Linked DNA regions of Homo sapiens. The protein of the gene in region 1 interacts with the protein of each later gene in a pairwise test. Each region holds a gene or a part of one and is shown in the gene's direction. Other genes may lie near its edges.

Evidence for each region.
Region 2: the proteins of PTGES3L-AARSD1 (region 1) and ARID4B interact in binary tests that used the Homo sapiens proteins (3 or more experiments, as listed by UniProt).
Region 3: the proteins of PTGES3L-AARSD1 (region 1) and ZNF185 interact in binary tests that used the Homo sapiens proteins (3 or more experiments, as listed by UniProt).
Region 4: the proteins of PTGES3L-AARSD1 (region 1) and TRIM45 interact in binary tests that used the Homo sapiens proteins (3 or more experiments, as listed by UniProt).

The regions. Positions count from the first base shown.
Region 1 is NC_000017.11:42,977,506-42,984,429, reverse strand, and holds the start of PTGES3L-AARSD1 (PTGES3L-AARSD1 protein), read left to right. Parts: upstream 1-3,901; 5' UTR 3,902-4,247; coding exon 4,248-4,384; intron 4,385-4,417; exon of another isoform or gene 4,418-4,525; intron 4,526-4,766; coding exon 4,767-4,880; intron 4,881-4,985; coding exon 4,986-5,052; intron 5,053-5,161; coding exon 5,162-5,260; intron 5,261-6,924. Other genes in the region: RUNDC1 (RUN domain-containing protein 1), read right to left, coding at 3,356-3,853; putative protein PTGES3L, read left to right, coding at 4,377-4,384, 4,767-4,880, 4,986-5,052, 5,162-5,260. UniProt on the Homo sapiens protein: Functions in trans to edit the amino acid moiety from incorrectly charged tRNA(Ala).
Region 2 is NC_000001.11:235,220,166-235,227,202, reverse strand, and holds part of ARID4B (AT-rich interactive domain-containing protein 4B), read left to right. Parts: intron 1-1,640; exon of another isoform or gene 1,641-1,690; coding exon of another isoform or gene 1,691-1,708; intron 1,709-2,427; coding exon 2,428-2,500; intron 2,501-3,942; coding exon 3,943-4,037; intron 4,038-5,540; coding exon 5,541-5,638; intron 5,639-6,657; coding exon 6,658-6,901; intron 6,902-7,037. UniProt on the Homo sapiens protein: Acts as a transcriptional repressor. May function in the assembly and/or enzymatic activity of the Sin3A corepressor complex or in mediating interactions between the complex and other regulatory complexes.
Region 3 is NC_000023.11:152,971,067-152,974,011, forward strand, and holds the end of ZNF185 (zinc finger protein 185), read left to right. Parts: intron 1-207; 3' UTR 208-2,408; downstream 2,409-2,945. UniProt on the Homo sapiens protein: May be involved in the regulation of cellular proliferation and/or differentiation.
Region 4 is NC_000001.11:117,118,745-117,126,306, reverse strand, and holds the start of TRIM45 (E3 ubiquitin-protein ligase TRIM45), read left to right. Parts: upstream 1-4,557; 5' UTR 4,558-5,105; coding exon 5,106-5,593; intron 5,594-7,539; coding exon 7,540-7,562. UniProt on the Homo sapiens protein: E3 ubiquitin-protein ligase that plays a role in the regulation of inflammatory response.

The DNA.
Region 1 (6,924 bases):
ACATGCCTGCAGTCCCAGCTACTAGGGAGGCTGAGGCAGCAGAACAGCTTGAACCTAGGAGGTGGAGGTTGCAGTGAGCTGAGATCATGCTACTGCACTCCAGCCTGGGTGACAGGGCCAGACTCTGTCTCAAAAAAAAAAAAAAAAAACTGGGGGCCAGGTGCAGTGGCTCATGCCTGTAATCCCAGCACTTAGGGAGGCTAAGGTGGGAGGGTGGCTTGAGCCCAGGAGTCAGAGACCAGCTGAGCAACATAGGGAGAGCCCCACCTCTACAGAAAAAATATATTTTTTAATTAGCTAGTCATGGTAGTGTGCGCCTGTGGTCCCAGCTACTTGGGAGGCTGAGCTGGGAGGATGGATTGAGCCCAGGAGGTTGAGGATGCAGTGAGTTGTGATCATGCTGCTGCACACCAGCCTGGGCAACAGAGTGGAAAATAAAAATTTAGGGCCGGGCACGGTGGCTCACACCTATAATCCCAGCACTTTGGGAGGCCGAGTCGGACAGATTATGAGGTCAGGCGTTCGAGGCCAGGAGTTCGAGACCAGCCTGGCCGACATGGCAAAACCCCATCTCTACTAAAAATACAAAAATTAGCCAGGCGTGGTGACGGGCACCTGTAGTCCCAGCTACTTGGGAAGCTGAGGCAGGAGAATCGCTTGAACCCAGGAGGCGGAGGTTGCTGTGAGCCAAGATGGTGCCACTGCATTCCAGCCTGGGCGACAGAGTGAGACTCTGTCTCAAGAAAAAAAAAAAAATTGGCGGGGTACAGTGGTTCATGCCTGTAATCCAGCACTTTGGGTGGCCAAGGTGGGTGGCTTGCTTGAGCCCAGGAGTTCAAGACCAGCCTGGGCAATATGGTGAAACCTCATCTCTACAAATACAAAAACTAGCTGAGCATGGTGATGCTCGCCTGTGGTCCCAGTTACTCGAGAGGCTGAGGTAGGAGGATCTACTGAGCCTGGGAGTCAAGGCTGCAGTGAGTCCTGATCATGCCAGTGCACTCTAGCCTGGCAACAGAGTGAGACTCTGTCTCAAAAAAAAAAAAAAAAAAAAGGAAAAAGAAAAAAAAAGGTAAGTGGTAAGAAGTAAATCATTCAGTTCAATGATATTCCCTACTCTGGTCCTACCTGTTCACCTGTCAATGTATTCAATGTATAAATACAAGATTACAACTTGTAGGTGGATTGAGCACTACTTTTTTTTTTTTTTTTTAAGGTGGTACAATGTTTCTTTTGCCTTTTTTTTTTGAGACAGGGTCTTGCTCTGTTACTCAGGCTGGAGTGCAGCGGTATGATCATAGCTCTCTGCAGCCTCCAACTCCTGGGCTCAAGTGATCCTCCTCCAGCCTTCGCCTCCCCAAGTGTTGGGATTACAGTCATGAGCCACTGCACACAGTCTTTTTTTTTTTTTCAGTTTTTAATTTTTTGTGTGTTTTTTTTTGAGACAGAGTTTCACTCTTGTTGCCCCAGGCTGGGGTGCGATGGCACGATCTTGGCTCACCGCAACCTCTGCCTCCCAGGTTCAAGCGATTCTCCTGCCTCAGCCTCCCGAGTAGCTGGGATTACAGGAATGTGCCACCATGTCTGGCTAGTTTTTTTTTTTTTTTTTTGTATTTTTAGTAGAGACGGGGTTTCATCATGTTGGTCAGGCTGGTCTCGAACTCCCAACCTCAGGTGATCCGCCCGCCTTGGCCTCCCAAAGTGCTAGGATTACAGGCGTGAGCCACTGCGCTGGGCTAGTTTTTAATTTTTATGGGTACATAGTATGTGTATATATTTATGGGGTACATGAAATGTTGCTACAGGCATGCAATGTGTCATAATCACATCATGGAAAATGGGGTTGGCCTACTGTTTCTAAAGGTGAAAATGAACAACAGAGTTTCCTATCATGTAGAACCTTTGGTGCTGTCCACCCCTTTCTAGCCCTTAAATCTGACAGTTTGAGGTGGCTGCTCCTTGTGTAAGGAGTTGCAGGTATGTGGAGAAGGGTGGAACAGTAAACACAGGATTGCACTGGAAACAGTTCAGACTAAAATAAACAAATCATTATCTGCTTGATAAATCTTCTTGGCTAAAACCAATGTAAGTGGGAAGAAAGCCACATGTAGATTGTAGTTTGAAGAATAAAATGGTGAAAAGGGATGGGGCATGGTGGCTCACTTCTCTAATCCCAGCACTTTGGTAGGCTGAGGAGGGCAGATCGCTTGAGCTCAGGAGTTCGAGACCAGCCTGGGCAATGTGGTGAAACCCCGCCTCAACAAAAAATAAACAAAATTAACTGGGTGTGGTGGCACACACCTGTAGTCCCAGATACTGGGGAAGCTGAGGCAGGAGGATTGCTTGAGCCCAGGAGGCAGAGGTTGCAGTAAGCAGAAATTGCGCCAATGCAGTCTGGCCTAGGTGACAGAGTGAGACTCTGTCTCAAAAAAAAAAAGTGAAAAGGCAGTGTACCTCAACACTTCCAATAAAGCCAGCACTTTGTGCACTTCCAGAGATGCAAAGCTTGTAAGGAAACGTTTACCTGGTGTCTTATACATAGTTTCACTACTTCTGGGGTAGGCACACTGAATCGATCTTGTCAGTTATCAGAGGACCTCATTCAGAATGCCTAATGATTAAGCAGGATGGAGGAAGAGTTTAAAAATTTCAACATTATAGCCTGCACGGTGGCACACGCCTGTAGTCCTGAGGCTGAGGCGGGAGGATGGCTTGAGACCAGGAGTTCGAGACCAGCCTGGGCAACATACCAAGACCCTCCCGTCTCTTAAAAAGGAAAAATTCCAACATTAGGAAATTTATCTAATCAAGAGTTGTGTTTATTTCAGTTACTAAGAGACCCTGCTGTTAATCCAAACTCCCACCCAAAGAAGTGTAAAGACTGCCTAGATTTCAGGAAAGCAGGGACAGGGAGTTAACCTAAATTTCCACGGATTCCAACTCACTTTCCTTTCCTTTGCCAATTTTCCCAATCCCCAGAGTCGGGGTCCTCTAGCAGCCAAAGTGTTCAAGACTGAGATACGTGAGGGAAAGGTGAGTGGGCGCAGCACTGCTCTTGGCTGCTCTGCTGCCCTCTCAACGACTCACTTCGCTCACCGCTCCTCTACCACTCACGTCATCACGCACCGACATCTCTCCACATCCTCCGTGCACACCGCTCACCCTCAGGTTCCCAGGCCTCTGTCCTCTTGCCCTTCAGCCGGCCCCGCACTCCAGTCCCCTGGTCTCCGACACACGTACTCACCGACCGAGTCGGGGAGGCTTCTCCCCGCATGCACCATCATCCGGGTCTGGATCGCCACCCACACGACCCCACTATTCCCATATTCCTCGCGGCCCGGCTCCAGCCACTCACCTGGTCCTCGCCCCGCAACCATGGCCGGTCCCCTGGCAGCCCATCGCCCTCATCGCTGGCGGGGTCGCCGGGCCCTTCGTAACCTAGGACGTGAGGGCAGCCGCGGAAGGCGAAGTCTTCGAGCTCCCGCAGAAGGCGCTGCTGCTCCGCCGGCGCCCCGCGCACCACCTGGCGCAGGCGGAACTGCACCTGCGCGAAGTGCGAGGACAGCGCCAGCAGCGCCGAGTCCAGCCGCCGCCGCTCTGCCCGCAGCCGCCGCAGCGTCCGGCCCGGCGAATCCGGCGGGGAGCCCGGGGCCGCGCCAGGCTCCTCGGCCGTCGCCTCTTCTAAAAACGCGGTTGCCCCAGGCCGGGCCTCCGCCACCGCCCCCACTGGGGCCCAGCGCACCGCCTCGCACGGTGGCAGCGGCTCCTCTTCCTCCTCCTCTTCGTCTTTCGCCTTTGGCCCAACAGCCGCCACCACCGTTACCGGCTCTGCAGCCGCTTCGACAGCCGCCATCTTCCCGGAAACACCACCGCACGTCAGCCGCGCCCCCCTGCTGCCATGGCAACGGCGCGGTGGCCTGGAACCCCAGGGGAGTGGTGGGCGGGGCCTGAAGTACCCAAGTCCCCGAGGGCGCGCCTTCCCCGGGAATTTAATTCAGGACAATAATGTTTTATTGAGCGCCTATTGTGAATCAGACACTGAGCAGTAAGCGTCGGAGAAACAGGTGAATGATACCGGGGAAAAGTCATTCCCTGTGTGTAGCGTCTAGGGCAGCCTTTGCCCTGGTTCCAGCAGATGGGTTGTCTCTTCATAGTCTATGCATTTCTGAAGACCCCACGGTGAAGGGCTGCAAGGATGAAGCTGTCCCAGAGTATCTCCAGAGTGCAGATCCCTTGGCTGCCAGGTCATGTTCTCTCTTCCTCTCAACTGCTCTCCCGACCATATAAGGAGAGGCAGCTGCTGGGGGCGTCCCCAGGATCTAAAGATAGCGGCCCCTGCCTGGAACTCTAAATGCCACCCTGGAGCGGGAGCCGCAATGGCACGGTGAGTGTTTCCGGCTCCGGTGCTCCCCCTGGCCCTTTTCCCTGGAGATTCCCTGCTCCAAGTCTTCTGGGCGCTCCAGGTTCTGTGAGGCCCCACGGGAGCCCCGGACCCCTGGTCTCTGTAACTGTGGGGTGAGGGAAGGTGTGACCTGAATGTTCTCCCTGACCTCCTAGTTTCCTAGTCTTGCACGTTCTATTCTTCCCAGGTTCACATTCACCACACCCACCCACTCCTGTCATTCCCTTCCCTTTCACCCCTTCTGTCTCATTTAGCTCCACTTTGAAAAAACTGTGGCATCAAAGGTCCCTGGGTAGTCCCTTCCCAAATGACCTCAGTCTTCCCTCTCCCACCCCTATGAAGCCACACCTCAACTTCTCTTCAGGCAGCACGCCCGGACCTTGTGGTACGACAGGCCCAGGTATGTGTTCATGGAGTTTTGTGTTGAGGACAGCACCGATGTCCACGTGCTTATTGAGGATCACCGCATTGTGTTCAGGTAGTGGCCCTGCCGTCCGAGGGCCTGGCTTCCCAGGAATCTACCCCTTTCCTAATGTCCCCACACGGAGTATTCCGCATCTCCTCAGCTTCATTGTCTCCTCAGCTGCAAGAATGCCGATGGAGTGGAGTTGTACAATGAGATTGAGTTCTATGCCAAAGTGAACTCCAAGGTAAGGGTGAAATGGGACAGTAAGGTTTGGATGGAAACCGGGCTGCCCAGGGAAACTGGAGATTAATTCTAAACCCCAGACCCTAAGAATGAGGCTCTCTATCTGGCAGGACTCCCAGGATAAGCGCTCTTCCCGCTCTATTACTTGTTTTGTGAGAAAATGGAAGGAAAAGGTGGCCTGGCCGCGGCTTACCAAGGAGGATATCAAGGTGGGTGTGTGGAAAGTGGCCTGCTTCTTCTCTCCATGTACCCAGGTTACAGCTGGGATTGTCCTTGCCTCCTTTCCAGCCAATATTCAATCACTCAACAAGTCCTGCCTAATCTTTTTTTTCCAACTGTATTAGTCTCTCTTTTTATTTTTATTTATTTATTTATTTTGAGACGGAGTTTCACTCTTGTTGCCCAGGCTGGAGTGCAGTGGCGTGATCTCAGCTCACCATGGCCTCCGCCTCCCGGGTTCAAGCAATTCTCCTGCCTCAGCCTCCTGGGTAGCTGGGATTACAGGCATGCACCACCACGCCCAGCTAATTTTGTATTTTTAGTAGAGATGGGGTTTCTCCTTGTTGCTCAGGCTGGTCTCGAACTCCCGACTTCAGGTGATCTGCCCGCCTCGGCCTCCCAAAGTGCTGGGATTACAGGCGTGAGCCACCGCGCCTGGCTTATTTTTTAACTTAAAGTTCTGGGATACATGTGCAGAACATGCAGGTTTGTTACATAGGTATACGTGTGCCATGGTGGTTTGCTGCATCTATCAACCCGTCATGCAGGTTTTAAGTCCTGCATACATTAGCTATTTGTCCTGAGTCTCTTTTTACTCTCTTGGTAATCTCTCCCAGTTAACTTACTTTCGTTGTAGGTGATGAAATGTGTAAGACTCCACTTCAGATATTGGCACTGCTATGAACATGGTCTTTCCCTTTACTGCAACTCACAATCAAAACCTTTGATTCTTTTTGTGTGTGTGTTTGTGTGAGATGGATTCTCACTCCCGTAGCACAGGCTGGAGTGCAGTGGCGCGATCTTGGCCCACTGCAACATCCACTTCCCGGGTTCAAGCGATTCTCCTTCCTCAGCCTCCTGAGTAGCTGGGATTACTGGCTTGTGCCCCCACGCCTGGCTAATTTTTGTATTTTTAGTAGAGACGGGGTTTCACCATATTGGTCAGGCTGGTCTTGAATTCCTGACCTCAGGTGGTCTACCCGCCTCAGCCTCCCAAACTGCTAGGATTACAGGCGTGAGCCAATGTGCCCAGCCATTTCTTTTTCTTTTTTCTTTCTGTTTTTTTTTTTTTTTTTTTTTTTGATTCGGAGTTTCGCTCTTGTTGCCCAGGCTGGAGTGCAATGGCATGATCGCAGCTCACTACACCTCCGCCTCCCAGATTCAAGCGATTCTCCTGCCTCAGTCTCCCGAGTAGCTGTGATTACAGGCATGTGCCACCACACCCAGCTAATTTTGTATTTTTAGTAGAGACAGTGTTTCAACATGTTGGCCAGGCTGGTCTCAAACTCCTGACCACAGGTGATCCACCTGCATCGGCCTCCTAAAGTGCTGGGATTACAGCTGTGAGCCACTGCACCCGGCCTCTGCCAATTCTTGTTTTCTATATTCCAGTCCCAGAAGTAGTTTCCACTGTAGAAATTAATTGATGAGTCTTATTCTTTCTTTTCTTTCTTTCTTTCTTTCTTTTCTTTCTTTCTCTCTCTCTCTCTCCCTCCCTTCCTCCCTCCCCCTCTCTCTCTTTCTTTCTTTTTCTTCTTTTCTTTTTTTTTTTTTTGAGACAGAGTTTCTCTCTTGTTGCCCAGGCTGGAGTGCAATGGCGCCATCTCGGCTCACTGCAACCTCCGCCTCCTGGGTTCAAGCGATTCTCCTTCAT
Region 2 (7,037 bases), on another chromosome or scaffold:
ATGCTATAGCAATGTCAAATTACATATGTTGCTGCTACTCACCTTTGCATATGCTAGTACCTCTGTAGGCACCACCTTTTCCTCCCCTCCTTCCTTAGTCAGCATGGTACATTCCTGTTCAATTTTCAGAACCCTACTTAGGTGCCATCTCTCTAAAGAGAAACCTGTGAACCATCACCTCCCTCACCTCAGGAAAGCACCAGTTCATTTGCTAGTCTAAACTACTACTGCTCCTGGCAGGCACGGTGGGTCATGCCTGTAATCCCAGCACTTTGGGAAGCTGACGCTAGCGGATCACCTGAGGTCAGGAGTTTGAGACCAGTCTGGCCAACATGGTGAAACCCCGTCTGTACTAAAAATACAAAAATTAGCTGGGTGTGGCTGGGCGCGGTGGCTCACGCCTGTAATCCCAGCACTTTGGGAGGCCAAGGCAGGCAGATCACCTGAGGTCAGGAGATCGAGACCATCCTGGCTAACATGGTGAAACCCTGTCTCTACTAAAAACACCAAAAAATTAGCCGGGCATGGTGGTGGACGCCTGTAGTCCCAGCTACTCAGGAGGCTGAGGCAGGAGAATGGTGTCAACCCGGGAGGCGGAGCTTGCAGTGAGCCGAGATCACGCCACTGCACTCCAGCCTGGGTGACAGAGCCAGACTCCATCTAAAAAAAAAAAAATTAGCTGGGCGTGGTGGCAGGTGCCTGTTATCCCAGCTACTAGGGAGGCTGAGGCAGCAGGATTGCTTGAACCCAGGAAGCGGAGGTTGCAGTGAGCCGAGATGACACCACTGCACTCCAGCCTGGGCGACAGAGCAAGACTCTGTCTCAAAAACAAGACAAAACAAAAAAAGAATTACTACTGCTCCTTATACATATTTTTGTCATTTATATTTATTGTCTATTTTTTCTTCCCCACGAATTTGTAAGTTCCTTAAAGTTAGGAATGCTGTCTTACTCGTATTCATACTTAAAGTGTCTGTCATAGTGTGTAAAATATAACAGATGATAAATAGCTACCAAACCTTTTGGTGCTTAGTGTTTTCACAAGTGTTTTTGTAAAAGCAAATCTGTAGTGTAGTGTAAACATTTTCTTGAGTTAAAAGCTTACCTTAAATGTTTTTGGAATAGGAAAAATTGTGCTGTTTATTAAAGTTAAATATTGTACCATGGGAACATTTAAGATAACATCTAGAAAATAGATGTCCTTAGATTTGTATTTGATCACCTTACCAAAACCTGAATGTATGGAGTGTGTTTAAATTGAGAAATACAGATTCATCATTAGCAAATTAATGGTTGTCATTTATTTTTCTCTGCCCAATTAGAAAACCTAATAGTTGATCAACATAGGCTTTAAAAAAAAAATTACCTTTCTTTGTTGTACTAGCTTTTAAATTAAAAAGACAATCTCGCTAAAGCAGTGGCATTAGGCACATGATTTTCCAAATTGAAAAATGCTATGTTTTTATTTATTTAGATTACCAGTTGAATATCCTAACTTTTACTGTTACAAATCTGTATATTTAAGCCAGAGTAACTGTAAAGCCTAGCTGTATATTTGGAATCATTTTCTCTGCAGTTACTCCTAATCATGTTCTGTAACAGTAGGCTCCATAGCCTATTTTTTCTTTTATTTGATTCAGCACCTGGCATAGTACCTACACTTACAGGTGCTCAAGTGTTTGTTGAATGGATGAAAGTCATTGAATTGGTGAGTTCCTCAATCTTAACCTACTACCCTGCTCCTTGCAGGTTGCTTCAGGACCAGCTCCCTGCTGCCACAGCCCTTGGCCACAGCAGCAAGAAGCTAGTCCTTCCCTTGTAATTGATAAATTGGGGAACTATTTTATTACTTGAAGATTTCCCTAAGTCTGAATCTTCAGGTATTGTAGATCAAATTTGTTCCCCACTTTACTGATTATGTAAGCTTGAAGTATATACAGTGGGGCTGCATAAAATGAAGGATACTTGCAGTCAGCTAATGGGACCCATACTTTTATAGTACCTTGAGGAGCAATAATAGAATTAGTTTTGATGTTTAACTCTGATCCAGTTTCGCATAAGTTGAGAGTAGGTATTCTTGAACCTGTGATCCTGATTTGAAAAATAGCTCTCTCATATGGTAAAAAAAACAAAACAAAACAAAACAAAACCACGAACAGTCTTGCTAGTCCCTTTTCTCATATGGGAATTTTTACTGTGGGGATTCTAACTATTGGGATACTTTTTAAGGCATATTCCTCTATAAAACATAAAATGTCTAGACTTACCTGGTTTTGAACAGCTTAGTGTTAAAAGAGTAACTTTGATTACGTAAAAAGCCTTTGAAGTATTTTAATGAACACTAGTCTTTGCTATTGGTAAGAAATCTGCTTGTTTTATTAAAATGCTTAATTGAAGAAAATAATATTCTTCTGTGATTAAAATTAGGAAGAAATAGAACCATTTCCAGAAGAAAGGGAGAACTTTCTTCAGCAATTGTACAAATTTATGGAAGATAGAGGTGAGTATTTTTTATTTATCATTAACGTGGTAAGTTTTGGACAGATAATTAGTATCTTAAAAATAAGAATAGAATTTTGTTTACTGAACTTTATGTCATCAGTAATTATGGCTGTCTTTTTGACTCTGATATCACCAGCACCTAGCATAGCGCCTGTCACGTAACAAGTAGAATGAGGAATTTGATAGCATTTTGACAGATATTGTGGCTATGGACACATAAATGCACTTATTACCCTGTCCTGCCAATCCCTTTACCTATCCATGGGTCCCTAAAGAACAGTAGCAAAATGGGAATTAAGCCAGAAATAGATAAAGAAGTGTGACAAAGTCTCAAAAGTGAGCCTTGGCTCAGCTTATTTAATCTGCCAGAAGCTGCTAAGGCCACGGAAGGATTGAAGGAAGAAGAATAACTTAGGGTAATGAACTAATCCTTCCGTAACCTCAACACTGTTATTCTCTAGCTTATCTTCTTGGTCAGAGTCTACTTTCTTCTTTTCTGGGAAGATGCTTGTAAGGGAGTAAGGAGAGGCTTTCTAGCTGGAAGGGAAGGGCAAAATGAATGATTAGTGTTTGGAAACACCACAATACTCTGGGAATTGAACGTTTTCTAAATCCCTGATTGTAATGCTGATGAGTAGAAACTGACTCTGTTTGTCATGTTTAGTTTTCATAAATGATAACAACGCCTAACACAATATAAGTATATTTTCTTTTTCAATATAAAATGTCTTTGATTCTTGTATTATTTCTTTACATGAATGGAGGGTTGGCCTAAGAAGTATGCTGTTTCATAGGCTCTTGTATAAGATAAATGAAAAAGCAAAGAAAATGAATAAAATCTAATACTAGAAAAGAATGAAAAAATATGATTAAGCCAGTCATATATTTTGTAGAAATGGCCATATGAGGCATTGTACCCCTACCCTGTTACCTCCTCTACCACTTTCTCATGGTTTGTTTGATTTAGCATCCTTGCCTTGCGTTTTCTTGTGTTAGAATGAAAAAAAAAAAAAAATGTAGCTTTACTATAGAATCATTATTTAGAGTAGTAGTAAATTGGTAAAATACAAAGAAAATGCCATAAAAGTAACTCTTATTGGGAAGCAGTTATCTAGTATTTCTTCCCTCAGCAGAGGGAAGAAAGTAGAATGAAAATAAAAGGTTTCAAGAATCTGGTTATGGTTTTTAAAATTTAAAAAATTTTAAAGTGGCCATGGGCTTATTTATGTGTAGATACCATGTCTTTGATTAACAAGATAATTTCTCATATATATATATACATATATATGTATATATACACACACATATATATACGTGTATATATATATATACGTGTATATATATATAAAATACTATAAATACTTGTATTATTTGAATCTTTTGAAATTTTAAATTAAAAATGTAGTGTGGATCTAATATAGTTTGTGTTTTCTGTAACAGGTACACCTATTAACAAACGACCTGTACTTGGATATCGAAATTTGAATCTCTTTAAGTTATTCAGACTTGTACACAAACTTGGAGGATTTGATAATGTGAGTGTTGTAGTCAAACTGAAACATCTTTTTCATGTAACATGTTTTCTCAGGTATCTGCCATCTCTGAAATTGTTTTTCTAAACAACAAAACAAAGTTTTTCAGTAAAAACCTAAGAAGAAGATAAAGTGGAAAGTACAGCTAGCCTCCTCAGACAAAATTTAAATTTTAAAGATTTTTTAGGCCAGGCATGGTGGCTCATGCCTGCAACCCCAACACTTTGGGAGGCTGAGGCGGGTAGATCACTTTAGGCCAGGAGTTCAAGAACAGCCTGGCCAACATAGCAAAACCCCATCTCTACAAAGAATACAAAAATCAGCCAGACGTGGTGACGCACGCTTGTAATCCCAGCTACATGGCAGGCTGAGGCACGAGAATCGCTTGAACCCAGGAGACAGAGATTACAGTGAACCAAGATTGCACCGCTGGACTGCATTCCAGCCTGCGTGACAGAATGAGACTCTGTCTCAAAAAAAAAAAAAAAAAGATTTTTTTTCATATCAGCTTTCTGATTACTGTTAAATTGGTCAATCTTTCATAAACCTTCTTTTTTTATCTGAGTCACAGCACAGCCATATTGGTGGAAATCCTTCCTGTGTCTCTTTTTCATTAGACAGTATGCTCCTTAAGAGCAGGGATCTGTCTTAATATTCTGTATATTCTTAATCCCTTTCAGAATATAAAGGGATTAAAGCAGGAAATGTTTGTTGAACTGATCTGAAGAAATTATTTTAAGGTTGACGTGATGTACGATACTTATCCAATTGAGAATATTCTATGGAATAAAATACTTTACAAATTTCTGCAGAACTGCATTTATTAGCCTGTATATTTTATGCGAAATAATAAATCCTTTAAAAATGTTTGTCTCCATTTCTTTGTTAAAAATTTTGATTTAAGAGCCTGAATATTTTTCCATTTTCCATAACTGGGTTTATTTAAAAGTCAAATGGGGCCAGTTATGGTGACTCATGCCTGTAATCTCAGCACTTTGGGAGGCTAAGGCCAGGGGATTGCTGGAGCCCAGGACTTTGAGACCCGCCTGGGCAACATGGTGAGACTCCATCTCCACAAAAAAAATTTTTTAATTAGCCAGGTGTGGTGGTGTGCATCTATAGTCCCAGCTACTTGGGTTGTTGAGTCAGGAAGATCCCTTGAGCCCGGAAGTTCAGGGCTGCAGTGAGCTGTGTTTGTGCCACTGTTGCTGCACTTTAGCCTAGGCAATAGAATAAGATCCTGTCTCCAAAAAAAAAAAAAAAAAAAAAAAAAAAAAAAAAATAGTCAAATGACTTAATATTTCAACATTTATAATTTTCTGATATTTGTTAGAGTACTAAAACCTTTATTTTTAAACCAAATTTAGAATTTATCAAGTTTTTAAAAATTCTTTTGAGTCTAGGACCAATAAATATAAAAATATACTCATATATACTGTGTCTATCAAAATGTTATTATATTAACACCTTTTAATTTGAGAGTTTTTGTTTCACTTTGTCCATTAGATTGAAAGTGGAGCTGTTTGGAAACAAGTCTACCAAGATCTTGGAATCCCTGTCTTAAATTCAGCTGCAGGATACAATGTTAAATGTGCTTATAAAAAGTAAGTTAGTATAATTGATATGATTATCTTCAGTATTTTTACCTAGAAAGCAGGATGAAATTTACCTTATAACTGAGGTTAATTATTTCTTTAAAGAAATCAGAACATTTTACTAGAGTAGTCATTCTATGATAGTATTTTCTAAAGTGTATTCTATGATACTAGATCTATGAGAAATTCTGTGAAGAAAGTTTTTGTGGCTAAGTACATTTGTCAAGTACTTCATAGAGGTTAAAAAGCTAATATTCTGAAGTCAAGTAAATCCACATTTGAATCCTAGTTCTGCCAATTATTAACTGTTTATGCCCTAGGGCCAGTTATTTATTCTCCTAAGCCTCAGTTTCTTCATTTGTAAAATGGAATGCTTGGCCAGGCACGGTGGCTCATGCCTGTAACTTCAGCACTTTGGGAGGCCGAGGCGGGCAGATCACTTGAGGTCAGGAGTTCAAGACCAGCCTGGCCAGCATGGCGAAACCTTGTCTCCACTAAAAATACAAAAATTACCTGAGCATAGTGGCTAACGCCTGTAGTCCCAGCTACTCAGGAGGCTGAGGCAGGAGAATTGCTTGAACCCAGGAGGCGGAGGTTATAGTGAGCTGAGATTGCGCCACTGCACTTCAGCCTGGGCAACAGAGTAAGGCTGTCTCAAAAAAACAAAAAAAAACAAAAAAAAACAAAAAAAGGATGCTGCTGTGTGCCCCAGGGTTACTGTAGTGACTAAATGAGATTTACTAAGGAGTCCAGCCTCACACATAAGAAATGTGCAAAAAATAGATGCTATTACTAATACTTTTAATAGCTGTTATTGTTATGACTCTGAGCACAGTGTTTTAAATGAATTTTTTGACAAAATTTTTTTTTTGCATTGAAAAGATTAGAAAGAACTAGAATAAATTAGAATGTTAATATGGCTCAATATCTGAGAGTTTAGACAAAAGAAATGAATACACATTAAAAATAACTCTATAGTTATATTTTGAAATGTTTTCACCAAATGTAATTTCTCTTCATGTTTCCAGATACTTATATGGTTTTGAGGAGTACTGTAGATCAGCCAACATTGAATTTCAGATGGCATTGCCAGAGAAAGTTGTTAACAAGCAATGTAAGGAGTGTGAAAATGTAAAAGAAATAAAAGTTAAGGAGGAAAATGAAACAGAGATCAAAGAAATAAAGATGGAGGAGGAGAGGAATATAATACCAAGAGAAGAAAAGCCTATTGAGGATGAAATTGAAAGAAAAGAAAATATTAAGCCCTCTCTGGTAAATCAGATATTGTTAATTGTCTTTTGCTTTCTTTGGTATATTTTCCATATCCTCTATAAAGTTCCAAAATCAATATATTGTATAATATTATTCTTTATTATTTGTTTATTTTCTTCATTAAGTGCTACTTTTG
Region 3 (2,945 bases), on another chromosome or scaffold:
TTTATCACGGTGTCTGAGCACAGAGCAGAATATATCCCTTGAAGGCAGTAGCAACCAGGCTTTCCACTAGCTCCATGCTGATGGTCTTCTCTCCAGAAGACACACCTTGAGCTAGGTGGTAACTCCTGATGACTGGAGCAGTCACCCACCCTGAGGGCCTCTAGCTGATGTGTTTCCAGTCTCATGGCTACTTCTGTTTTCTTTTAGCGACCCCCCACCGCCAGGCTGATCAGAAGCTGATGACTCGTGGACAAATTTGGCTGTCCCCAGTTTTGCCCCAAGTTGCTGTCTCCCCTTCCCTCACCTCCTCCCTCCCTGTTTGATTTCTTCATGCTTTTGCCCTTCTCAAGTTGAAGTTGCATACATCCAATATCGTATCTTAATGATGCTATGATAATTGCTTGTGTGTGTAGCTTCTTGTAGCTTAGAAAGCGCTTTATGCCCATGATGTCATTTCAGGCTCAACCAAAGAGGATCAAACAGGAATTCCATCTTGGCTTCCCTAAGACAGATTGGCTTTCTAATGAGTTTAAGTGGGCAGAAGTGTAGGGTTCAGTGTGTCCTGACTCCCTTGAGGCTTATAATGGGCCAAGTTGAAGACTGTTGATGATCCCTGGTGGGTAAATTGCAGACATCAAATGCTAGGGATTGGCATAGGCTAGTGTTTAGCTTGTCTATTTGCCATATCTATTTTTTTTAAATTTCCATACACTTGTAAAAGTAGTTAGTTGCTTTTGATTGAGTTATATAGCAGTTTTTCATTTGGTCTTCCACTCACCTTTCACTATATTTGAGTGTTCCCTTACAGGTATGTTGGCATGTGTTGGAAAATTTACACAATTAGGTTTAAATTCAGTAGGATGTGATTTTAGGATGCTACTGATCAAAGTGATATCTGTGTCTGTTGGAATCTTGATAGCTGATTAATTTGCCCTCAATTCTGCTCCCTGAACTTCACACATAAATCTTCCCAAGTGGGTTTTAGGGTGTATAGATCCCAGCAGGATTAAGGAGGTGGAAAAGCAGCTAACATTTCTTGAGGCTCTACCACATAGCAGGCACTGTCACAGAGTAATGGCATTAATCCCCATAATAATCCTGTGAAGGTGATATTCTCATCCCATCTTAGACATGAGGATATTGGAACTCAGAGAGGTGGCTATTGCATTGCGCAGAACGCTACAGAGCCCATGCTCTTCCCAGAGCAGCACCCACAAAAGCAAGCATTGATTTTGTGCTCAGTGTGTGCCAAGCACTGTGCAGAGGGTACACAGTTCCTGCCAGGTTAACACCCTCCCTTCAGGCCTCCCAAAGGCATAGGCTTGCAAAGAGCAGAAGGTGTGAAATCACACTCTTCCTCTGGGCATCCTGGATCCCTGAATTATCCCCCCCCCCATGAAGTACTTCAAGGGCCAAGCTGCCCCTTTCCCTCCTCTCCGCCCATGAAAATGCCTCCAAACTGAGATGCTTTCAGCTGAGAACAGATTTGACTCACAGACATTACCAAAGAGGAGCTTGTGAATCCAGGAAAAGCTCCAGGGGGCTAGCTGATCTGAGCAGAGAGCTTTCAGTGACCCATTTTCCTGTCTAGACTCTGCCTTAAGCTAGTGGCAACTGCTGGGGCCCCAGGTACTTGGGACATGGAAACTCGTTGGATGGCTGGGCAGATGTAAGCCTGTCCATGCAGTCAGCCGATCCTCTGCTCAGGTTCAGCTGGACTCTGCCATCTGTGGGCCCAGCATCACTCTGTAAGTTCCTTGAAAGGAAGAACAACCTTAGAGTATTTCTGATACAAAATGAGGGCCTCTGCTCTTGATTTAATTATAAAATGTCTACGTCTTTCTCCAGTTTCTGAGCCCTATGCACATTGGCTTGTGGGCTTGTTCTTCCTGCCAAATGATCAGAGAGGAACATTCCATTTATTTGTAGTGGATTTCCTCTGGAGGGCATGTACCCACACTAAATACCAACTGCTCTTCCTCAGCTGTAGTCCCCAACATCAGACTTGGCACGTGGTGGACACTAACACACAGGCACTCAATGAATGAGTGAAGGAAATAAAAGTCACCCCGTTGGTGAGAGGTGCTATCCCTGAGTCTCAGTGCAGGACCAGTGGATGAAAGGCAAGGTAAAGAGGCCCAAGATAGGCTGGCTTCCCCCGTTCAAGGTATAGTCTGCCTTTAAGGGAGTTTTAGAACCAACATGCAAGACATTGAAAGAAATCTTGCAAGAGCCATTATTGACTTAGATCCAAAACAGCCTCTCTCATGTCTAAAAAGGCACAGAATTTTGCAGATCTGAGGAAGAGGGATGCATTACCTTTTTGCTTCTTTTCAATTGCTTAGTGTTTCTAATCATACTTAATCCACACTAATGTGCGCAATTATAATAAATGGTAAGATATCACATGTGTCAGTGTTAAAGTTTTCTTTTGAAGTGTAATAACTTGGTGTATTCAGCTGTGTGATTTCTTTATTCCTATTGCCTGAAGCCATTCTCTGTACAAAAGTAAACAAGTACTTAATAGCAAGCTCTAGACACTGGGCATGCACAGGAACTGTGGAATTCTAGACACATCAAATCTTAATGAAGAATATTGTATTGTGGCGGCAGAGAGCGGGGGCGGTCCATCCTTCTCATGATTACCACTGCAGACAGACAGCCACCTAGTCATTAGTGCCCACTTCCAGTGACCAGGAGCTCAGTTCCTTACAAGCCCCTGCTGTCTGTGGTTTTAGAAGATGCATTCTTCAGTTGAGTTAAAGTCCATTTCTGTATGTCACCCACTGGTGGTCTTTAATCCCTCCGCTAGATGCCAGCTCTTAAAATAGATGAAAATACTTCTCAGATTCTGTCTTGGTCAACTCTTCTCACATTTAAACACCCCTGGTCCCTCTAACTCTTCCTTGACAGTAATTCTGAATACACATCTCTCAAAGGCCCTC
Region 4 (7,562 bases), on another chromosome or scaffold:
AGAGGAATGGTGAGAGCAAATGCCAGATTGCGCTGTGTTTAGGAGTAAAATGCAAGGGAAGAAGAGATGCAAATGTAGACTATTCTTGTCAAGCAGCTTGGCTATAAAGAAGTAGAGAGGGATTGGGAGCTAGAGAGGGGCATAGGGTAGAAGGAGAGACTGAAGCATGGACATGAGCGGAAAGAAAGATCCACCAGAAAGAAGATAAAGACAGAAGAGAGAGGAGGCAGGCAGGGCTGAACTTCAGAGCACAGGTCCCAGGAGAAAGGAGTCTCCTTCCTTTGAAGGAAAGAAGGAAGGATGGTGACAGAGACAGATGGAATGGTGAAAGATAAGTCTGACAGAACTCTCTGGTCCCTTTCCATATATCCACTCAATGTCTGATGGTAATGATCAAGCATAGTGCCCAAACCAGCCTTGCCTGATTTCCTGATGGGTCATTCTCCCTTCCTGGCTTTCTTGCCTTCAATATCTTCCCTGTCTTGGGCAAACAGGTGTGGGCTGAAAGTCTTGTAGACACTTTCATGAACGCTGGTCACTTTCATCAGTCCTGTTCCTCTCATCCCATGACTATTGCTTCCCCAGACAGATGAAGCAATGTGTGAGCATGGAAGAAGACACCGAACTAATTCTGAGAAAGGAGCATCCTTAACAAATCCTCTCTCGTCCTGTGATGTCACCCCATATCACTTATGGTCTGCACTATCCATAAAACTCTTGGTTGAAGGTGGTCCTGTTTGTCCTCCCATTACTTGAGATCACCATTCTCTCCTTCATCAATAACAGGTCTTTATTAAATGACTACTGTCTAGGTTGCCAAGATTTTCCATCTTAACAGAGAGAGTATACATGTATGTATGTGATATATATAGTGTGTAAATATATACACATATGTAAATATATACACATGCATATATATACACACATAATAAATAAAAACAATACCACAAGGTAGCACAAACTGCAAAGTGAATAATATAGGCAAAACAGCATTAGGCTTGAATCTGGAGCCCTGAAATAAGAGAAAGCTTCAAGGGGGTAGTGTGAAGTAGGGCTTTCATAGAAGGAAGGGTAGGTTTAAATAATAAAGGAAGGAGAATGTTGCCGACAACTTGGCAAACACCAAGAAACGTGCTTGGCAATGTTTAGGGAATAACTAAACAAGCAGTTTTATGAATCTATTGAAGAATGCAGATATTATCCTACAAAAATGGGGAGCTACTGAAAGTTTTAGAATGAAGACTGACTTGTATCATGTTTTTATATGTTTTTACAATTAATTTGGAAGAACTGTGTAGATCAAAAAAAATAAAGGGCAGGGATAATTCAGACACTATTGTAATACTTAAGGTGAGGGTGATAAAGAGCTATAGCATCTTAAAAAGTGTATGCAGTGAGGTGTTGGCAGTGGGGATGGAAAGAAATCGGTGTCTGCCTGGATATGGAACAAGAGAAAGGAGGCCAGCAGCACTATAAGGTTTCATGCAGGAGGGAAAGGAGAATGATGATACTCTGGAGAGAATCAAATAGGAAAATTCAGAGAGTGCAGTTCAGTGAGCAAAGAAGTTCAGTGAAGTTTAAGCTATGTGGGACTTGGTGATAGGAACATATTTGAGTGCAGATTTAGAAATCTATGTCAAAAGCTCAGGGGAGACATCAGTACTGGAAGCGTTGGTCTGGGAATCATCCACGTGAGGAAATGTAGACGCAAAGGTAGGAGATAAAGTGGAGGAAGGGGAACTAGTGAGGATGGAGGGTGTGAGAAGCAGCCCAAGAGACAGAAGGTTAGGAGAGTAGAGTATTTCAGAAGTCAAGGAGGAGGCAAGTTTTAAGGATGAGGAAGTACAAAAAATGGTAAATACTAAAGAGATTGCCTATTGAGAAAAGGCCAGCAATATGGTCACTCATGATCTACAAGAAAGTCTCAATAGGAAAGAGGGGAGGAATAAATCGGTGGTGATGGTTATAAAAAGATGATGAAAGCAGACAGTGAGACCACCCTTTTGAGAAATATAGGGGCGAGAACCACCACTATTAATACGTTGAAGGGGAGCTAGATCAAAAGACGATTTGCTTCCCCTTTCAGGACTTCATCAGAACTCTTGGCAGAAAAACTGACTGAAACATAGGAATAAGGTTTTGAGGAAGCAGGAGAGGTTGGGATAAAAAACAAAAATCTTGAGGAACTAATCTTGGCACTAAAGAATGGCAGTCAGGAGAGGTAAGAGAGGAGGTGTGAGGAATCATGGATTTTTTAAGTAGAAAGGCGAGGCAGTTCTTCAGACAACCTTGTTTTTCTCATCAATGGAAGGGAATTAGCTGCAGCATGTGTGAGGGATTTGATGCTTAATAAACTGAGAAAGGAAAGGTAGAGGTGGCCAGGCGCGGTGGCTCACGCCTGTAATCCCAGCGCTTTGGGAGGCCGAGGCGGGTGGATCACCTGAGGTCAGGAGTTCGAGAGGAGCCTGCCCAACATGGTGAAATCCAGTCTCTACTAAAAATACAAAAAATTAGCCAGGTGTGGTGGTGCATGCCTGTAATTCCAGCTACCTGGGAGGCTGAGGCAGGAGAATCGCTTGAACCCTGGAGGTGGAGGTTGCAGTGTGCCGAGATCCTGCCATTGCATTCCGGCCTAGGCAACAAGAGCAAAACTCAATCTCAAAAAAAGAAAAAAAAAAAAAGGGAAAGGTAGAGGTAGCCCGAATATAATCTTAGATATGGCATCATAAGGTTGTGTTCAAGTTCCAGATATGTTAACTTGGGCTGGCCATCCAAGACCTGGCAAGACCTCTTTGAGGCCATTTCCTTACAATATTGTTAAAGGTTAAATGAGATACTGCTAAATGAGATATTGCACGTGTAAATTATGAAGTACTTCTGAAACAAGAGAAGCTTGAAACTACTACCACAAGAAATGTGATACAGTATGAACAAGAGATGAAGTAAAGCACAGCCAAGCAGCAGGGAGGGTAAAGGTGAAGTTCAAAGCAAGAATATATAGCAAACCCAAGTCCACACAGTTTTTGTGACTTCCTCCAGCCTACTGGAGAGGCGAATGCCGATTTTGAGAGTAGATGCAAGAAGGACAAGAGGCTGAAAAAAATCTAGGTAAGGACTATTTAAAAATCTTTGGAGATATGCTTAACATTTGGAAATTACTTGCACATTTTATATAAAGGTGGCATTTGACTCATTGGCGTGTTATATTTTGGAAATGGCCAAACATTTCATTTTTATATTTTATAATGGTTTTTTTTTTTTTTTTCATATTTTGGGGTTAACTTTTTTTCAGATTCCATACTTTTAAAAGCTTAGGCTCCAGACACTATGCCTATAGCATGAAACAGATAATGAAGGAATCAAGTGAAACAGTCGCCCACTGGGTACAAATTAAGTAGGGAAGGTCATGAACAAAGAAAGCAGTGAGGGCCCAGTAGACAAGCTGACGCAACTGGAGATAACAACAGGTGGAGGGGAAAGGAGCAGCTGTTTCCATTTTTGGAATTTTGGAGAATCAGGAGACGCCTGGTAAGGCCAGAGAAGGTGGCCGTGTAATTATAAAGTTAAAGGGGTCGGACGTGTTCATCTTCCCAATTAGTTTTAAGCCCACAAAGGGCTTGTCCCTCATTGCCACCGTCCATTGTCTCACTGTGACCAGGCAGGAGCCCTCCGTGATTGACTGATAAAAACAGCGGGTCCAACTCGCTCAGCTCGTTTCTGTTACACAGGACTGTGGAATCCCGGGTGACATTCAACTCCTTAGGTCATCTGCACTCCCCCCGGACCGGAAAACAAAGCCTTCCCGAGCCCGACAAGGAGGGTGGCGCTCCCTGGCCCGGCCGAAGTAAGCCCTCCATTCGACACCTCGGCTCCACGGTCTCCCGAACCGGTCCCCGTAACGCGAGCCTGAGATGCCCTCACCCCCGAAAAATACCCAAAGTCGGGGAGCCGCGGGAGTGCTTGTACCCAGCACGCTAGGCCTGAGGGACCTGTGAGCTACAGTAAGCGCCTGAGGACAGAGGGGAGCCTCGCAGCCTCAAACCCGCGTGGAGGAGAAACGTCTGGCGCCCCCGAGCGGCCGAGACCTCGGGAGCCCGAAAAACGTCTCCCACTCCCAGCGCAGAGCCAACTGACAGTGCCATCCACCAATGGGAGAACCCAGTCTGCGTTCGTGGGACGAGTCCGAGGGCAGAAAGAAGGCCGTCCCGGCGCCAAATCAGCGTGGCTTTTTAAGAGGTCCTGAGGCCTCTCTGGTCACCACAGAGAGAGGGACAGTCCCTGTGAAACGGTGACGCTGACTACACTATGCCGCTCGCTCCGAGCCTTGGCCTTTTCCTCCCGCCGCACTCTAAGCCCTTCGGCCGCCCCGCCCACGGCCTTGTCAGGTCCCGCCCCCCGCGTGAGTGGACTGGCGAAGATGTGGAATTTCCAAAACTTATTGGATGCTTAGTGGCGTCACTCTGGAGGGCGGCGGGGCCCGGAGCGGCGAGGGCCGCCGCTCTCGGACGGTGATTGGACTCGCCGGAGTAGACCGGGCTGGGATTGGTGTGAGGAGGGGCCAGAGCCCGCGGGCGTCCCGGGCCGAGGCGCGGGAGAGGCGGTGGACACCGAGAAGCCCGCCGGCGGCTTGCAATTCCCTCACCCGGCGCGCGCCTTTCGCAGAGGGAAGGAGCAAGAGGGCCCCTACCTCATCGTGCGCGGGTGGGGTCGGCGCTTGTCGCGTGTGGCGCGCAGTGGGGCGGGCGGCGGGAGGGGGGTGGCAGTGGAGGGAGCGAGAGGTGCAGGGGTGACTTTGTTGGCAGCAGGACTAGCTGGAGAGCTAGACCTGGAAGCGCATCCGGGGAGGACTTGCGGGGCAGAGGAGGGCGTGGGCGTGTCTGGTGTGGGATGCAGTGGAAAGGAGGGGGCCCTCCTGAGTAGATCTGTGGGTGATTCCTTCGAGGACGCCTCGTCTTCCCGTCTGCCCTTTTATTTGTCAGCGAGGGAGTCCCCATGGTCTCTGTTCAAGTTCTGGAGACTTTCTCTTTGGGTGGGCTTAATCACCTGCTACTAAATCGTAGAACTGCCCAGGGCCCTTTCTAATATTGGTCACAAACGTGAGGAGTATGTCAGAAAACAGAAAACCGCTGCTGGGCTTTGTAAGCAAACTCACTAGTGGGACTGCACTTGGGAACTCAGGCAAGACTCACTGCCCCCTGTGCTTGGGGCTTTTCAAAGCCCCCAGGCTCTTGCCTTGTTTGCATACAGTTTGCACCACGTGTCTGGAGCAGCTGGAGCCCTTCTCAGTAGTGGACATCCGAGGGGGAGACTCTGACACAAGCTCTGAGGGGTCAATATTCCAGGAACTCAAGCCACGAAGTCTGCAGTCGCAGATCGGCATCCTTTGTCCTGTATGTGATGCTCAGGTGGACCTGCCCATGGGTGGAGTGAAGGCTTTAACCATAGACCACCTGGCCGTGAATGATGTGATGCTGGAGAGCCTACGTGGGGAAGGCCAGGGCCTGGTGTGTGACCTGTGCAACGACAGGGAAGTAGAGAAGAGGTGTCAGACCTGCAAAGCCAACCTCTGCCACTTCTGCTGCCAGGCTCATAGGTAAAGATGGGACACTCCATCAGGTGTAGCTTAAGAGCAGATTACAAAGAGGTGTCAAGACAAATCCCTCGGTGAGCAGATGAAAAGGAAAGCCTTCTCAAATACCGTGGAAGGTCAAAGAGCAATATAACAATGCAATAGCAAATACTCCAGTACAACAGTTAACCCGGTTAGCCTAATATAGTACCTAATATATAGCCTAATATAGCAATAGCAATAAACCCTTTCAATTTACAAAGTGCAGCTACAGTTTCCTTCAGTCATTCGTGTAGTGAATAATTGTACTGGGTGCTGGAGAAACAGGAGAATGAATATAACAGCATAGATCCTGTTCTTGATCTCCTTCGATCTTGCAACTCTTACAGAAAAGCAGGCCCTGTTTTCGCCCCCATTTATTAATTGGGGAAACAAGCTCAGCAATATTATGTGATTTGCCAAGGTCCTACAGTTGGTAAGTGTGTAACAGAACTGAGTATTAAATCCAGATCATTTTGACTACATTCCAGTAACCCATGCTGTGCTCCTAGAATAGGTGATGATGATTGGCCGGACCTCAGCTTTTGCTTTGTGTACCTTAGAGTTACTCTGGAGCTTGGTGAGGTGGGCTGGTAGGTGTTAATTGGGGTGCAGACTATGTGTTTTATGGCATTTGGTGAATAGTTTGTCAGATGGATCACTTTTGTCCCTTCGTACTCTTACCTTACCCCATCCTAGGACACCAGAATATAAAATGACCACAGTTTTAGGATTAGCCTAAAATAGGTTTCGGGTTCTACTTCCATTTGTTTTCTGGCTACACTAACAGAACAAGTTTGTAGACTTCACTCTATTTTTAACTTGTAATTATGTGATAGTCCCTGCGACTGTCTTGCTGCCAGCCAAACCAGCTAACCCTATTTTCTCTGCAGCCACTCTTCTGGTGCCAGAATAGGCATATAAGCTTCAAATTGATACAATGCTAATGGAGGAACTCTGAACAGTCACCATGTTTTCCTAAGGATTTCCCTACATCTCTAGAGGGCTACTATAGGAAAGGAATTAGAAAGAGAGCTTTGATTCTACTAACCATTGGTTTCACACTTTCTTTTCTCTTTTTTTTTTTTTCTGAGATGGAGTCTGGCTCTAGTCGCCCAGGCTGGAGTGCAATAACACAATCTCCACTCACTGCAACCTCCACCTCCTAGGTTCAAGCGATTCTCCTGCCTCAGCCTCCCCAGTAGCTGGGATTACAGGCACATGCCACCACGCCTGGCTAATTTTTTGTATTTTTAGTAGAGACAGGGTTTCACCATGTTGGCCAGGCTGGTCTCAAACTCCTGACCTCAGTTGATCCGCCCACCTCAGCCTCCCAAAATGCTGGGGTTACAGGCGTGAGCCACCGCGCCCGGCCGGTTTCACGCTTTCTAATGATGTTGACGATGTCTCTTGAAAAAAATTCTAGCCTGCTGATTTGGGTGATACAGGTCAACAGAAATGCTTCACCAAAATCTTAGATGCAAGCTAGATGAGACTTGGTGTCTGCTTTTTAATTGCTTGGACTTTATTGCTGTGTTATCTGGCATGGTTTCTGTTTCTTGATGCTGGTTTTCTGCCATGCCCTCACTGCTAGCTTACCTTAGGAAGCCGACTGTGACTCTTGTCTAAACTCTTTGGGAAAGTTCTAGCATGCAGTCATAGTCTTGCAACCTTCTGCATAGGCATGTAGCCAGCCAGAGCCCTAGTCTGTTCACACGTTATTCTATACAACAGCTCTTTCAGGTAGGTATTGTCCCCACTGTACAGATGAGAAACTGGAATCAGAGAGGTTCATGCAATTAGAGATTAGAGCAAGGAATTGAAATCAGGTTTGTTTAACTTCAGATCCTGTGCTCCTAAAATCTCTCTGCCCAACTATTCCCAACAGAATTATCCCCTTATTTCCTGTTACTGATTCTGTTTGCCCCTAGGCGGCAGAAGAAAACGACTTACC